Regions from separate parts of the Homo sapiens genome. Here regions 2 and 3 are each linked to region 1. The links come from fine-mapping of genetic effects on gene expression. A gene starts in region 1. Each other region holds a variant in brackets. All regions are shown on one strand. Distances are between the middles of the regions.

Evidence for each region. PIP is the estimated chance that this variant, and not a neighbour inherited with it, causes the effect.
Region 2: its variant is fine-mapped to the expression of AFG2A in whole blood (TOPMed, PIP above 0.99).
Region 3: its variant is fine-mapped to the expression of AFG2A in whole blood (INTERVAL, PIP above 0.99).

What each region holds. Positions count from the first base shown.
Region 1 is chr4:122,919,818-122,925,241 of GRCh38, reverse strand. AFG2A (AAA ATPase AFG2A) reads right to left here and starts at 2,164. Exons shown (of 16, transcript NM_145207.3): 1 at 1,937-2,164. The coding sequence starts at 2,099. NUDT6 (nudix hydrolase 6) reads left to right here and starts at 2,645. Exons shown (of 5, transcript NM_007083.5): 1 at 2,645-2,907. The coding sequence starts at 2,670. RefSeq lists enhancers at 1,803-2,172, 1,965-2,501.
Region 2 is chr4:122,851,721-122,857,144 of GRCh38, reverse strand. All of the region lies in intron 1 of FGF2 (fibroblast growth factor 2), which reads right to left. Among named protein-coding and RNA genes, the nearest start is that of FGF2, 28 kb to the right of the region's middle. The variant A/C (reference allele first, on the strand shown) is at 2,706.
Region 3 is chr4:122,976,928-122,982,351 of GRCh38, reverse strand. AFG2A (AAA ATPase AFG2A) reads right to left here. Exons shown (of 16, transcript NM_145207.3): 10 at 2,966-3,120. Among named protein-coding and RNA genes, the nearest start is that of AFG2A, 57 kb to the right of the region's middle. The variant C/A (reference allele first, on the strand shown) is at 3,050.

The DNA of each region.
Region 1 (5,424 bases):
AGGTAGAAACAGTGGGAATGGCATGCAGAAGAGGAATATGTAAAATATTTAGGTAATAAACATGATTTAGTGGTGGACTAGGTATGTGAGATATGGGGGGGAGAGTCATGGATGACTCTTAGGTTTCTGAATTTTGCAGCGGGAAAAACTGAACAGAGTTGAAGTTTATTTTGTTGGAGGAAATAACGGGCTCATGAAGTTAGTCCTGAAGTATCTTTGGGACACTCATGAGAAGAGTTATTGTACAGTGCTATTCAAAATATGACCCACAACGATTTGTTACTGCTTCATGACAAGTACAAAACAGGAGAATAAGTATATAGAAGCTTTTATTGAAATTTACAGAGTAATTTCACATCTGTTTAATAAAAATTTTTCCTTATTTTTCTAGAAAATCATTTTTACTGTATTTTAGAAAAGTGCTGATCTGTGACCTATTATAAATTTTAAAGTCTTCACCACAGAGAGCTTGAGAAGCATTTGGCTAAAAGGCAACCACATCAAGGCGCAAAAACAAAAGATTTACAAATATAAATCTGACACTGAAGAGACTATAGATGGGAAACTCTGGGCACTGGATGAACTTGCCAAGGAGACAGGATTTATTGAGAGGAAAAAAAAGGTTTTGGACTAAGAATTGACGAACTTCAACATTTAATGGTCAAGGGAAGAGGACGAGCCTGCAAAGAAAAATGATGAAACATCAACAAAGATGAAGAAAACCAGGCAAGTTTGACAACACATAAGAAGTTAAGTGTTTCGAGAAGGAGGGAATGGTCAACAATACCAAAAGTTGCTGTGGTCACGTAAGGTTTATCAACACGGAGATGCTCGGAGACCACACCAGGAACAGTTTCCATGGAATGATGGGGTGGAAGTCAAAGAGGAATAGGCTAGGGAGAGTATGTAAGTGGTGAGGCGGCAGAGACCACTCCATTTAAGAAGCTTGGCAATGGATAGAGAGACGGTTGCAGGAAGAAAATGTGGAGCTTTTGTTCTGATTTAAGATGGAAGAGAAATGAGCATGTTTACATGTCAATGGGAAGGATCTAGTTCAAAAACAAGTTGAACCTTCAGGACAGAACAAGTTGTCCTCTGATACCTAAGGCAGAGTGAAAATACCATGTGAACTCTAAATTGTCTTTAAGGTCTGATTAGACATAAAAGTTTTTGCCACTAGTCTGGTCCATTTTTCAAAGCTATTACACATCAAATATAAATTTTCAATTTTTAATTCAATTTATAAGACTTTTCAGTATAAATACGTTCTCCCAAATCAAAGGAGCTGTCATCTAGGAATGGCTTTTAAGTCAAACACATCTGGACTCAAATATCGGCTCTGCCACTTAGCACCTGTGTAGCCTGAATGGAATCACGTTAACTTTCCTCCCTCTATAAAACTGTCATTACTATACCCATCGGTCACGGCTTCTGTAGAAATTAGATGAGCTATATATACTGCTAACACTAGTGTGCAGTTACTAGCAGTTATTAAATATCATAACCTGCGTAGTACTGGAAGAAAATGCTATCATCACTCCTAAAGGCAGAGTGATCCACATTTTTACTGAATTGGTTATTTAGTTTTTTAGGATAAGTATCCCATGTTCGCTAGTTATGAACAATTTTGCAATTAAATGTGTCGTTAATGTTAAATGAGACAAAGCGTTTCAAGTGCAACTTAAAAATTCAAAATAATTTACAAAAGAGAAACCTTGGACACGGATAAACCATTTCAGCCTAACTTCTCCAGTGCAGGCGCGGCTACGTTTGCATGCTTCTTACATACAGAAGTCTTACACGCTTCTGTGCCGCTCTCAGACCCATGCCACGCCCAACTTTCAAAAGTCTCTGCACCCCAAGTCAGTATCACTGAGTCTCCCGCCCCTCAGGTTGCGCCCCCTCGGCCTCTAGTCTCCCACCCGGAATTCTTTACCCTTTTCTAATAAGTTGGTCACCGTCAGAGTCCCGGAGGTTGCCGCGAAGTCTGATCCAGCAGAAGGAGCCCGTGCCTCCGCACAAGAGGAAGCAGCAGAGGGCAAGGACGAACCATTTTCCGCGCTTTGGTTCAACCGCTTTCTATTCTTCTTGGAAGACATGGTCACAAGGTACCCTAGCCGAAGCAGTAGAAAAGCCGACTCAATGTGCGCGCTTCAACTGAGAGAAAAACTTCCGGGGCAGAAGTCAGCGAGGGTCCGCCCCTGCGCCGTAATCCCCTGAGTGGAGCGCAGCAGTGCACAGCGTGGTGGGAGGGACTGAGCGTTTTCAAAACCAGCAGTCTTTGAAACAGCTGTAACGGCATCTGTGAAAGAAGATAGGTTCCAGGAACGGAACTGCCACTTAGATTGTAAATTCCTGAAAAACAGGACGTTTTTGCATCTCCTCCCGGCTTCCCCATCCCTAAACCAACGTCTGTTGAATTAAACTACCAAACAAAATAAGTGAGTGGCGGTGGGGGAGGAGGTTTTCCCCGCTTAACTGGAGCGGGGCAAATTGCTGAGAAGGGCTGGTGGACCACTTCGCGGTCTCCTTGGCATAGCTCTGCAGAGTGGTAACCCCAGCTCAACTCTGAGGGTATTGATGGCACTCTTCTAAAATGTACGGCCGCGATCTCCGCTCTGGAGCGCGGAGGGGTCATTTGGGCAACGGACGAATTAAGCGGCGTGGAGATGCGGCAGCCACTGAGCTGGGGCCGCTGGCGCGCGATGCTTGCCCGAACCTACGGCCCCGGGCCTTCGGCGGGTTACCGCTGGGCCTCGGGCGCACAGGGTTACGTGCGGAATCCGCCAGTTGGAGCGTGCGATCTGCAGGGCGAGCTGGACAGATTCGGGGGCATCTCGGTGCGCCTGGCGCGGCTCGATGCGCTGGACCGCCTGGACGCTGCCGCCTTCCAGAAGGGCTTGCAGGGCAAGTGCGCCTGGGACGAAGGGCTCCCGGGGCTCCAGAGCTTTTCTAATGAAATAACCGCGGCCCCCACTCCCTAGTCGCTCTGTGCACCACTGTCGAGCCCAGAGGGAAAGGGAGAAGGCACGCGTGACCTGGACCTGTTTTCTGGAGCATTCGTGCTTAGACCTTTTGCTGGGAGGTCTCTAAGGCGGTTGGGTGAAATGGTGAAGATCCCGGACTTTGGGATCTGCAACCCTGGTTGCTGGTCCACTTTCTACTGTGCGACATTCGGAAATTGCCGTAAACCACCATTTCCTCTTCCACAGACCCCGGTGATAAGAACTCCTGGAATTACTGAGAGTTAATTTGGATAATGCACATAAAGTGCACAGCACAGTGCCTGCCACGTATTTAAAGCTCAGTAGATGTTTGTTAATATTATATTATTACATTATTAGTATCCTTTACCGAGCCTTGGTTCTGTCGGACACTTTTCCCAAGGAAAAAAACTCTTACATTCTAATACGGGTGGTGGACTGAGTGGACCAAAGAGGCTTTTCTTTTTTATTTTTAATTTTTGTGGGTCCATAGTAGGTGTGTATGTTTATGGGGTATATGAGCTATTTTGATAGAGGTATAAATGTGTAATAATTACATCAGGGTAAATGAGATACTCATCACCACAAGCATTCAACCATAATCCAGTTACTCTTAGTTATTTTTAAATGTACAGTTTGTTTTTTTTTTTTTTTTTTTTTTTGAGAGAGGGTATCATTCTGTCTCCCAGGCTAGAGTGCAGTGGTAGGATCAGGGTTCACTGCAGCCTCCAACCCCTGAGCTCAAGCAATCCTCCCACCTCAGCCTCCTGGGTAGCTAGGACTACAGGCGCGCATCTGGCTTTTTTCTATTTTTTCTAGAAACGGTGTCTCACTGTGTTGCCCAGGCTGGTCTCAGTCTCCCGGGCTCAACTGATTCTCCCGCCTTGGCCCCTCAAAGTGCTGGGATTACAGGCAGGAGCCACTGCACCCAGCCTGAATCTTTATTGAATATAGTCACCCTGTTGGGCTATCAAATACTAAACCAGAGAGGTTCAGAGTGTCACATTTGTATACAAATTGGGTCAACAGCTGTCTCAGCGAGAACTGGAGTTTTTTAGAATAACGCTTCTTTTATGATTAACCAGGGACGGTGGTGGGTGGTTTCAGTCTTCAATAAGAAAACTTTTTACTGGCTTTCAACCTTGAGCCCAATGATAAGAAAGCTTGGATGGAGGAGCCTTCACTTTGGAAGAAGTCGATTTAGTGGTGCAGCAGTTTTTCAAACGGCCTCTGAGGGTTTTATAATCTAATTGAAGGCATAGCATGCAAATTCAACTATGGAAAAATCTCTCACACTGGAAACTCAAAATAATCTTTATCCTATTGAGCAATATGGCAAGAAGCATATCTGTAAATATAATTGAGCTAGTTATTTCAATGTTTACTCATCCTCATTCCCAGACTTCTTACCTCTTCACATTATTTTCTCTCCTACTTGCTAGTAATTGCTGACAAGCCCGCTTATACTGCAACAGTGTCACTAATAGGAGAATCAATCGTTTTATCTTCCAGTGTGTGGGTAGACACAGGTGTTGTACCCACTGATACTTATCAATGACCAAACAGGTGATCAAAGCACTACCCCAGTCAGCATGACAAAGCAGAAAGCTGTGCGATTTGGAGGTGCACATTCTGGGTTTAAGTACCAGGTTCTGCCATGTGCTTAGCCAGGCATTAGGCAAATTGCCACCAAAAATATTTGCTTCTTAGCTTGCTTTTTGTGAATAACGCCAGCTCTAATTACTGGATAGATGCGTTGATCAAAGATGAAACTAATTTGTAAACTTAAGTACCAAATACTTGTTATATTTTTTCAATAAAACAAATTTTGTTGCACTTAATGGTAGATGTTTTAGGATCTTTATAAATAGTAATTAATCCTCCTAACAACCCTTTGAGGTAGATAGCATTATTATTCCTATTTTAAAGATGACAGTAGTGAGGCACAGAGAGAAAAATTTACTTGCCCTGGCTCTACACCTTTCTTACTGCACTATGCTACCTTGAAGAACTCCTGCTGGTTCTGTTGTTATAATTGAACAAAACTAACTGAATGGTAGTGCCTATAAAGAGAGACTATTTACACATGAAGTCCGCTATTCTTAGTCTTTATGGACTAAGAAGTCCATATTCTTGGTGGAATAAGAAGTCAACTATTCATATTCTTTTAGAACATGAACTATTGATGTTTTGTTACCAACAACTGAAGTTAGAGGGATAAACAGGCAATATGTTGTTAGCTTCACACATAACATATCTGCATCAGTAATGAAATAGCACTGGTTCTGGTCCCTGCTATGCCACTCACCAGCTATGTGACTTTAGGCAAGCCAGTCATTTCATTAGTACAAATTGAGCCCCAGTGCATAATGTAGGGTTACCCTGGAGGATTGCAAATGCATGGAATATTAAATAGAATTGGAAAAAATAGCTAATGGAA
Region 2 (5,424 bases), 68 kb after region 1:
CATCCACTTTTGGCTGGGGCATTTTCTGGTAAGAATAATTACAGTACTAACACCTCAGTAATCTGGATTTCAGGACCCCACACTGACTCCTGGCACAGCAACACCAGGCAACACTGACGACATGCATCTATAAATACCTGGCTTCCACCTACAAAACGCATCAACCCTATATGTGTTAAATGGTCTTTTCTTCTCAGGGGCCAGCTGTTGGAGAAATGTTTCTAAAAATAAGTTGCCCACAAAATTATAGAAATGGAGAACAGATGGGTAGTTTCCCAAGGTGGGGCTGAGGGAGTGAGTGCACCTATAAAAGGGCAACCTGAGGAATCACCGTGATGATGGAAATGCTCTGTATCTTGAATGAATCAATGTCAATATCTGGGTTATGATACTGTACTACTGTTTCACAAGATGTTACAATGGGGGAAAATTGGGTAAAGAGTACAAGGAATCTGCCTGTATTATCTTTTTACAACTGCATGTGAATGAATCTATAATTATCTCAAAATTTTAAAATTTAATTTAGAAAATACCAGCCAACTAGTTCAAAGTCTCTACTTCTAGCTTAATAATTAATATTTTAAATCTGTGCTTTAAGATCTAGAAATTACTTGAGAGAAAGAAGCTAAGCAATATAAATAAGATTCCTTTAAATATTACTTTTAGTGTAACTTCCATTTCCATGTTAGAACAGAAAATGGAAGAAATTGAGAACCCAAGGGCAGAAGAGCCCGCAGACCAAATAGCCTCCACTGTATTTAGATTTTTTCATTTTACAATTCATTGTTGACTGAGTACCTGAACTAGGTCCCATTCAGGTACAAGGGATAAAGCACTGAAAGGAACCAGACACTGTCTCTGCTCTTGTGGATTTTACATTCTAGTGCAGTCTCTTAAAGCCAAATGAATATTGTGTCTTGAACACAATATAACACAATGTAACACAATATAAAAATCTGATGAGAGGTTTCAATTAATACTAAATTTCAATGATTTTATTCTAATAATTATATTAGAGAAAATATGTAAAATGTTTTGAAGAGGAATCACTATTTGAAAATTTTTTTTTCTGATGGCTTATTCTACTTATCAAATTCTCCCTTATTCAGAGACACATATGGTCTGTGGGCTATCCTGCCACCATGAGCTCTCAATTTCTTCCAATCCCTATTCTTCATAGTCTCTGAGTAATTTCACTAGAAGGTGAGGGTACGGGGACAGAAGAAAAGAAGGATGAAGCTCAAATATCACTTTTGCTACCTGTTGGTTGCACTTTTAGTAATTAGAAGAGGGGAGAGGATTATTTAAAGACAAAAATTGTTCCTCAGATAGCTGAAAATCTACAGATTTTTCTCATTTCCATTAGTAAGGGAATGTTAAGAACTTCTCTGGTGACCCCAGAACATTTGGTCACCTGACATTTCTTTGTATTTCCTGCAACGCTTACTGAATAAACAGGAAGCTCATCAGCTCCTAGGGCACCATCTGCACTACTTATGAGAAAATGTCTTCTAGCAGAGGCCTTCCAAAGCTGGAGGTGGAAGTGCCATGGTTTAGACAACCTGCTCTGTTGTCTGAGGAGGCAGCAGCAGACAGGCCTTTGAGGAAGTCAGTATCTTCATATGGAACAAGTTGTTGGAAGTCAGACCTTCAGTCAGGGTTGGCAATACTTTCACAAAAACAACTGAGAAATACTTCAACAAAACTGCTGATATTTTGAAATGTGAGTTCTTCAATATAAATCAATTCTTGAAAATTCCTCTCAGTACGCTGAAATCATAAGCAGCTCAGAAAGAGATTAAACAAAAATATAAGCTGCCTTAAGTAAGTATTTCTGCAACTAATCCAACATACTCAAGAGATGGAACACCTCCTGAATATAGCCTTTTCTTGGCAAATTCTTCCTTTTCGAAATGCTTCTTGGGTGATTTGAGAGAGCTTGAGGTTTCTCCTCAAAGTTAATTAAGTAAGTGCCTCATGGAGATAATGCAACCAGCTTGTTGGCCATGTTACTTTCCCTAGGGGTGAATGCCAATTAGCCGGGCTGTTTGTGTTCCTGGCACCTCTTTCTGGATTAAAGAGTTCACATTCATCCACAAAAATCACACAATTCAGGCAGCTCCAGAACAGAAAACAGAGCGGCATGTGTGTGCCCGGAGGAGGAGGAGCTTTGGGGGAAAGGCAAGTAGGGGCACAGGGTGGGGAAGGGAAGCTGCCCAGAGTGTTCCAGTTATTTAATACACTCTCCCACACAGTCATTCTATTTGACTGTAAAATCATTAGGAAAACACCTTTCAAAGCAGGCTTAAGACAAGAGAGTTTTATTTGACTCCCATGAAAATAGCCCCGGCAGCACGTCTCTCAATCAATGACGAGCATTACTGCAGCCTCCACTTTGGAAAACCACGCTTCCAGCCAAGAGCTCAAGGCCCATCTCCAAAACTTCTGAGAAGGCCCTTGCAAGGAAAATTCTTCCCCGCATCCCCTGCATGACATATGCTGGGTGGACTTAGTAGGAAGTTGGAAACGGCTCCTTTGCCTGAAAGTCTTCAGTAAGAAAACAGGACCTCTTCTTCAGCTGTGCTGAGTATTTAAAGGAATAAAACAGGATCACAGTAAAAGAAGATCATGGCTCCACCCTCAAGAATGCAGCTGCCTCTAAGTAGAAGTTAATAATTAGGCAGACTCCAGAGCTGAGTTCTTTA[A/C]AATATGCTATTTGAAATTGTTGTTAAAAGCCTGTGAGGTGCGGGAGACTCTTCTCCAAAAAATGTTTACCATTTCCTTACACAATCTTGATTGCCAGGGTCGAATACTACCACTGGTTTCACAAAAATATTGTGTTTTTGGAAAGGAAATGCACAGCCATCAAAAGAGTATCAGTGAATAACGAATATGCTCATTAGAATTCTGTAGGCGAATGCCTTTCTATGTTTACTACTTTAAAATATTGTATCCTTATGTGAAAAAGAAGCTATTTTTTAATGTCCTTTTAAAAAATCTTCTCACATCCAAAAGGCTTGCAGATCTAAAAAAGAAAATATATAATGGCTTTTCCCCATGTTCCTAGTATATCTTCTATGCTCTATCTACAGAAGAAACAGGTACTCTCATTGTGCAGTATAACCAGCTAAGCCTTCATCCATCCCAGCTCCTCTCTAGACGCAGCAAATACAGCACATATACTGATGCTTTACAAATGTCTATTTTTAATAGTGAAGATAATTAACAAAACTGCATTCTGCATCTCTCTCCATTTAATATATAAGAACGTTCATTCTTTCATTTAACTCCTATCAATATTGTCCATTTTAGTTTATAAAAGATAAGGAATTAGGTAAGTTTTGCTTATATTCTTCATCCAGCAAGCATTTATGAAGCACTCATTGAGTATCAAGCACAGCATTAGTATATACACCCTCGCACCATTCCAGTAACAACTACAAAAACAGACCACGTGGGTATGGATGCGTAACCCAAGTGCAGCAGGAGTAGTGTGGTGAACAAAAGACAGTTCAAGATGTTTAAATATTGGGGAATTCCGTGAAGGGGATCTAATTTCTAACTCCCTGAAATATTTCCTGATTCCCCTTTTCCCTCCTTCCTAATTCTCAAAAGTACAAATAGCAACAACAAAATCCCTTCCTCCTTACATCTTGTCTTCAGGGTTTTTACTCTACCTCAGCATTGTCTCCTCTGTTCCCCTCTGTGTGTTAAGATATTTATAATATACATGAACTTAAAACTCTCTTATTAAATAACTTGCCTCATCACACTCTGATTCTGGAGGGTGGAGGGCATACAATAGTAAAAAATAGTTTTTATTTTTATTTCACTTTATTTTATTTTTGAGACAGGATCTCACTCTGTCATGCAGGCTGGAGTGCAGTAGCATGATCATGGCTCACTGCAGCCTCAACTTCCCTGGCTCCAGCAATCCTCCTGCCTCAGCCTCCCAAGTAGCTGGGACCACAGGCACCCACCACCACACCTGGCTAATTTTTGTATTTTTGGTAGAGATGGCATTTTGCCATGTTGCCCAGGCTGGTCTCCAACACCTGAGCTCAAGCAATCCACCTGCTTCTGCCTCCTAAAGTACTGGGATTACATGAATGAGCCACTGTGCTCAGCCAGAAAATAGTTATATAAATGGTGCAGAGCAAGATAAATAAGGCCTCAGAAAAGGGCCCTATAACAGAAAGGTTAGGTTTAATGCAATCTGGACTATAAACATACCGTAGGTTCTTGAAAAGAAATGCATCAGGCTAAAAGTGGTGTTTAAAGAATTAATAACTGGAAAGGTTATTACAGCTGTTCACATGTAAGATAATAAAGATGTGGACTTTGATGGTGGCCATGAGGATGGAAGGCAAAGGATGAAATGCCAGGGTTTCATGAAGTTTGAATTTTGGTAAAAAATGAGCAGTGGAAAAAAATGTTGTGTTTAGGGGGTTTCAACTTGGAAATATGAAAAACTGACACAGAAAACAATTAAGGGAAAGTTGGTAAAATGAGGATAGTCAGTTTATGATCTAGCACCAATTCCATGCTCATAAAAGCGAGGAATTAATTGTTTATCTGATGGCAGACTTATTTTGGTGGCTCCAATGTACCACACCACCTGATATTTATATCTTCTGTAGCTCTTCCCAAACTGAATCTAGTCCTAGACATGTTGACTGATGTGACATTGGCAATTTTGATATTAGCAAACAGGATGCAAACAGCGGCTTACACAATGGAGCTTGCTCTCTTGGAACCCTTTCCTCTTGAGATCCAGCCACTGAAAAAGCCCAAGCTAACCTGAGAGAGACAGCACCTGGAGAAAGATATCATTAGGATTCCAGTTATCCCTGCTAAGGTATTGGACATGTAAGTAAAGCCATTTCAGATATTCTTGTCCCCGTGACCACTTGACTGCAGCTGCATGACACATTCTAAATTATACCAGGGGAACTATGCAGTTGCACCCAGGCCAACCCACAGAATCATAAAATATAAAATCACTATTTTAGACCACACAGCTTTGAGATGTTTGTTACACAGCAATAGACAACTGAAGCAGTGGAGGACAGATAAGATATAAGCTTTGAGAGATTTAGGAATAATAAATAACAGTAAAATGGTTACTTATTATTTGACAGTACTATCCTAAACACACTGCCTATATTATCATGTTAATCATCACAACAATACCAACATAGTAGCTATTATCAGCTAGTATCCCTATATAATAGATGAGGAAACTAATATTTAAATAAATTAACTTACCCAAGAGCATAGAATTAGTAAGGCACAGCTGAGACATAAACCCAAGTCTACCTGTTACCTGCACATATGTGAAAGATGAAACTGTGAGAATGAGCTCACCAGAGAAATGAGAAGAAAGAAAGAAAGGGCTGAGGCTAGGGTTAGGGCCAGGAAGAA
Region 3 (5,424 bases), 57 kb before region 1:
TGAGATTCATCCCTAGGATGCAAGGCTGCTGGTTCAACATATGCAAATCAATAAACATGATACGCCACCTTAAAAGGACGAAGAATAAAAATCATAAAATCATATCAATAGATACAGAAAAAGCATTTGACAAAATTCAACATCCTTTCATGATAAAAACTCTCAATACATTAGACAGAATGTATCTCAACATCATAACGCTATATGTATGACAAGCTCACGGCTAACATCATACCCAACAATGAAAAGCTAAAAACTTTTCCTCTAAGATGAAGAGCAAGACAAAATGCTCACTCTCGCAACTTCTATTTAATATAGTACTGAAAGTCATAGCCAGGGAAATTAGGCAAGAAAAAGAAATAAAAAGCATCCGAATTGAAAAAGAAGAAAAAAATTGTCTGTTTGCAGATGACATAATCTTATATAAAGGAAACCCTAAATATTCCACCAAAAAAAAAAGATTAAAACCAATAAATGAATTCAGTAAATTGGCAGGATACAAAATCGACAACAAAAGTCAGTAGCATTTCTATACTCTAACAACTATCCAAAAAATTAAAAAAAGAAAATCCCATTTACAATAGTATTTTTTAAATATACCGAAAAAACTTAACCAAGACGGTGAAAGACCTGTACACTGAAAACTATAAAATACTGATGAAATAGAAGACACAAATACATAGAATAATGTCTAATGTTCATGAATTTTAAAAATTAACACTATTAAAATATTCATACTACCCAAAATTGTCTACAGATTTAATGTAACCACTACCAAAATTCCAATGGCATTTTTCTCTAAAATATGAAAAGCAACCCTAAAATTCATAAGGAAACATAAAAGTCACCATATAGTCAAAGTAATCTCAAGCAAAAAAAAAAAAAAAAGCTGTAGGCATCACACTATCTGATTTCAAAATATACTACAAAGCTATGATAATCAAGACAGCAATATACTGGCATAAAAACAGACATATAAATAAATGAAACAATAGAGAGCCCAGAAATAAATCCACGCATGTACAGTCAATTGATCTGCAAAGGTACCGAAGAACACGCAATGACGAAAGCACAATCTCTTTAAAAAATGGTGTCAGGAAAACTGTATATCCACATGATATCCATATGATAAACTGTATGTCCACACATGAAACTGGCCAGTCTTCTCACACCACATACAAAAAATCAGTTCAAAATGGATTAAATATTTAAACATAATATCTAGAACTGTAAAACTACTAGAAGAAAACATAAGGAAAAGCCTTATGGCATGGGTCCAGGGCAATGAATTTTTGGATACACTCCAAAAGCAGAGGCAAGAAAAACAAAAACTGACAAACAGGACTGCATCAAACCAGAAAGTTCTGCACAGCAAAGGAAACAGAGTAAAGAGACAACCTATGGAATGGGAGAAAATATGTGTGAACCATATATGAGGTAAGGGGCTGCTATCCAAAATACTAAAATATATATTAAGAAACTCAAACAACTCAAAAGCAAAAAAAAACAAACAATCTGATTAAAAATGGGCAAAGGATCTGAGTAACATTTGTTAAAAGAAGACGTACAAATGGCTAACTGGTATATGAAAATATGTTCAATACCACTAATCATCAGGGTAATACAAATCAAAACTATAATGAGATATCACCTCACATCTGTTAGGAAGGCCATTACCAAAAAGATGAAAGATAAGTGTTGCCAAGGATATGGAGAAAAAGAAACCCTTGTACACTGTTGGTGGGAATGTAAAGTGGTACAGACATTATGGAAAAATGGTATGGTGGTTCCTCAAAATATTAAGTTACCAAAAGATTCAGCAATCCTACTACTGGGTACATATCAAAAGGAAATGAAGTATCTCAAAGCGATATCTGCACTCTCATGTTCACTACAGCACTATTCACAACATCCAAGATAGGGAATCAATCTAAGTGTCCCTCAACAGATGAACAGAGAAAGAAAATGTGGTATAATGGTACAAAGAAATGTGGCATAATGGAATATTATTTGGCCTTATAAAAAGAAGAAAATACTGTCATTTATAATAACATGGATGAATCTGGGGAACATTATGCCTACTGAAATAAGTTAAGGTACACAGAAAGACAAAAGATCTTACTCATATGTGAAAAAAGCTAATTCCAAAAGGTTGTATACAGTATGATTCCATTTATATAAAGGTTCTGAAATAAAAATTTAGAAATGAGGGGAGGAATGAGGTGGGTGTGATTATAAAAGACAACATGAGGGATCTTTGTGGTGATGGAATTACTTAGTATCTGTGATGAATATGCAAACCTTTTCATGAGATAAAATTGTATAAAACTAAATAAACACATACACACAAGTAAAACTGAAAAAATATGAGTAAGATCAATGGATTGTATCAATAGGGGTATCCTGGTTTTAGTATTGTAATATAGTTTTTTGGGTGTTTTGTTTTTTGTTTTTGAGACAGGGTCTCGCTCTGTCACCCAGGCTGAAGTGCAGTGGCATAACCATGGCTCACTGCAGCCTCAACATTCCCCAGGGCTCAGATGATCCTCCCACCTCAGCTGTAGCTGGGACTACAGGTGTACACCACCACACTCAACTAATTTGTACTTTTTGTAGAGATGGGGTTTTACCATGTTAACCAGGCTGGTCTCAAACTCCTGGGCTCAAGTGATCCGCCCACCTCAGCCTCCCAAAGTGCTGGGATTGCAGCCATGAGCCACTGCACCCAGCCTGTACTTCAGTTTTGCAAAATGTTGCCACTGGAGGAAACTGGGTATAGGATACACAGAATCTCCCTACATTACTTCGTATAACTGCACTGAATTTACAGCTATCTCAATAAAACTTTCAATTAAGAAAAATATTTTTTTAAAGTTTAGCCTAGGAAGTCAGTCTCCCTGAACTCTAAATTTTTTTCAGAGTTTAATTCAAACAGTGTAGCTAGTGTGGGACATAAATGACTTACATTTGGGACATCAATTGCTATTTCCCTCATGGCACTGGGTCTGATATCATTCATTGCCTGCAAGAAATCCTTCAGAGTAATCTT[C/A]ACCAGTCCAGCCACCTTGACATCAGGGAGGTTAGGCTGTTTTTTCAGGATTCTCCGCAAGGCACAGAGACCTATAAAGAGAGGAAAGTAACACAAGATTTGTCTTTTCCTTCATAAATACAGACTGAATTGATGGCTCCGGTGGCCCATCTGGAGTGGCAACAGTGAAGACACTGGCTGCAGTGGGGGAGGCGTGGCCAGGGCTGCATACTCCACGAAGCCAGTGGGAGCTGGGAACAGGCAGGAGCCCTGCTCTTTTCCAAGTTGGTGGGGTGTGAGCCCCACTCACCCAGGCACAGCTGCAGCTGCCCAGCCATGGCTGTGGACCCAGGTATCCCTCCACTCTCGAGAACCCAGGAAGCACCCCCTGCCCCAACAGGCTCCGAAGTGCCTGCTTCTACTGCCTGGCCTCTCCCCAGTCCCAGAAAAACTTTTTGCCTGCTCTGATTTCAGACCAAAGTTAAGGCTGAGCCAAGCCACTGTCATGACCCACCTAGGTGTTCATGTGCTCAAGGTGGCACTGACAGTCCAGCTCCCTTCCACCTTGGTCCCCTCCAGACTTTGGGTGCCAATGAGTATGTGAGGGAGGCTGAGGGTGGCTTGGCGCAGTCCTGCAAGCGCCCCTCAGCATGAACAGCCCCAGCACCATGGACGACATGATTGATGGCAGCAGGAGGCAGAGAGGCTCCTGGGCAGAAAGGAGTGAGTCCCTGGTGAAGCCCCACCTTTAAGCCAGGGACAGCCTGAAGCATGGAGGGCAGGCTGTCAGAGCTGGGTAGAGTCTGCAGCTGAGACCAAGAACTTATGGTGCTTTTTCTGGGCCTGCCCATGGCCACCCATGGACCAATCAGCATGCACTTCCTCCCTTCTGAAGCCCATAAAAACCCGACTCAGCCAGACTCACTGGGATGTCAGGACTACCAGCTGTGAGAAGGAGCTACCCACCCTGGGTCTCCTCACCACTAAGAGCAGGACATTCACTGGGACACCCTGCCTATGGAAAGGAGCTACCCACTCCGGGTCTCCTCTCCGCTGAGAAGTAGACACTCGTTGGGGCAACCTGCCTGCAGAAAGGAGCCACCCACTCCAGGTCTCCTCTCTGCTGAGAGCTGGACACTCATCAGGCTGACCAGCTTGAGGACAGGAGCTACTCACTCTGGGTCTCCTCTCCGCTGAGAACTGGACACTAGCTGGGATGCCAGATAGGAGCTACCCATTCTGGTCTCCTCTCCACTGAGAGCTGGACATGCACTGGGACAACCTGCCTACAGAAAGAAGCTACCCACTCTGGGTCTCCTCTCCACTGACAGCAGGACACTCATCAGGATGACCTACCTGCAGAAAGGAGCTACCCACTCCAGGTGTCCTCTCTGCGGAAAGCTAGACATTTGTGAGGATGGCCTGCCTGTGGACAGCAGCTACCCCCTCCAGGTATCCTCTCTGCTGAGAGCTGGACGCTCATCAGGACGACCTGATGGCAGAAGGACCTACCCACTTCAGGTCTCCTGAGAGCTGTTCTCTTGCTCAATGAAGCTCCTCTCTGCCTTGCTCACCCTCCAGCTGTCCACATACCTCATTCTTCCTAAAGGCTGCACAAGAACTCAGGACCTTCCAAATGGCAGGACTGAAAGAGCTGTAACACAAACAGGACTGAAACACGCCCACTGGTCACCACATTTTGGGCAATGAGAAGAAGAGGAGCTGTGGCCCTCTGGGGAGCCCAGATGCAAGGGCTGTGATCAGAGCTGTGATACCAGAGCTGTGACACTCTCTTTGGGGCTCTGCTGTTTCCAACATCTCCAAGCTTCCAGGTACCACCACGTTACCTGGTGCCCACGGTGGAAAACACTTGTGGTATGCCTGGTCCAGCCACATCCTCACACAGAGCCGGTGCCTGTGCCTGCACCTGGGGCTGTCCACTCCACTGCAGCCAGCATGCCTGGCTGTGTGCAGTGGCCGGACCTCGGGCTCACTCACACCCCCTTCACTGCTCTGCGCCTGGCTCACCCTTGGCAGGTGTAGGATCCAGGTCAATAGCACAAGCCAAGTACAGCCTGCTGGACCAAGTGGGCAGAACAAGCCCAGTGGGCCCGAGGATATAACTCGGGCAGAGGTGCCACCGGCCACAGAGGTTTCTGGCTGGAAAAGTGACACCCTAAGGATCCTGTGACAGAATTATCACCAATAAAAATATTAAAAAACCCAAACCCCATGCAAGATTACAGCATTTAAAACATTTTGTCCTTGTAGGGGAGGGGATGAGAGGTTGGAAGAGAGGTGGAAGAATGTGAAGAATAAATGTAAAAATCCAAGCACTTAGTTTTGGCAATGAAAATATGACAAATACTTAATATGAGAAAGCATTATTTACAAAT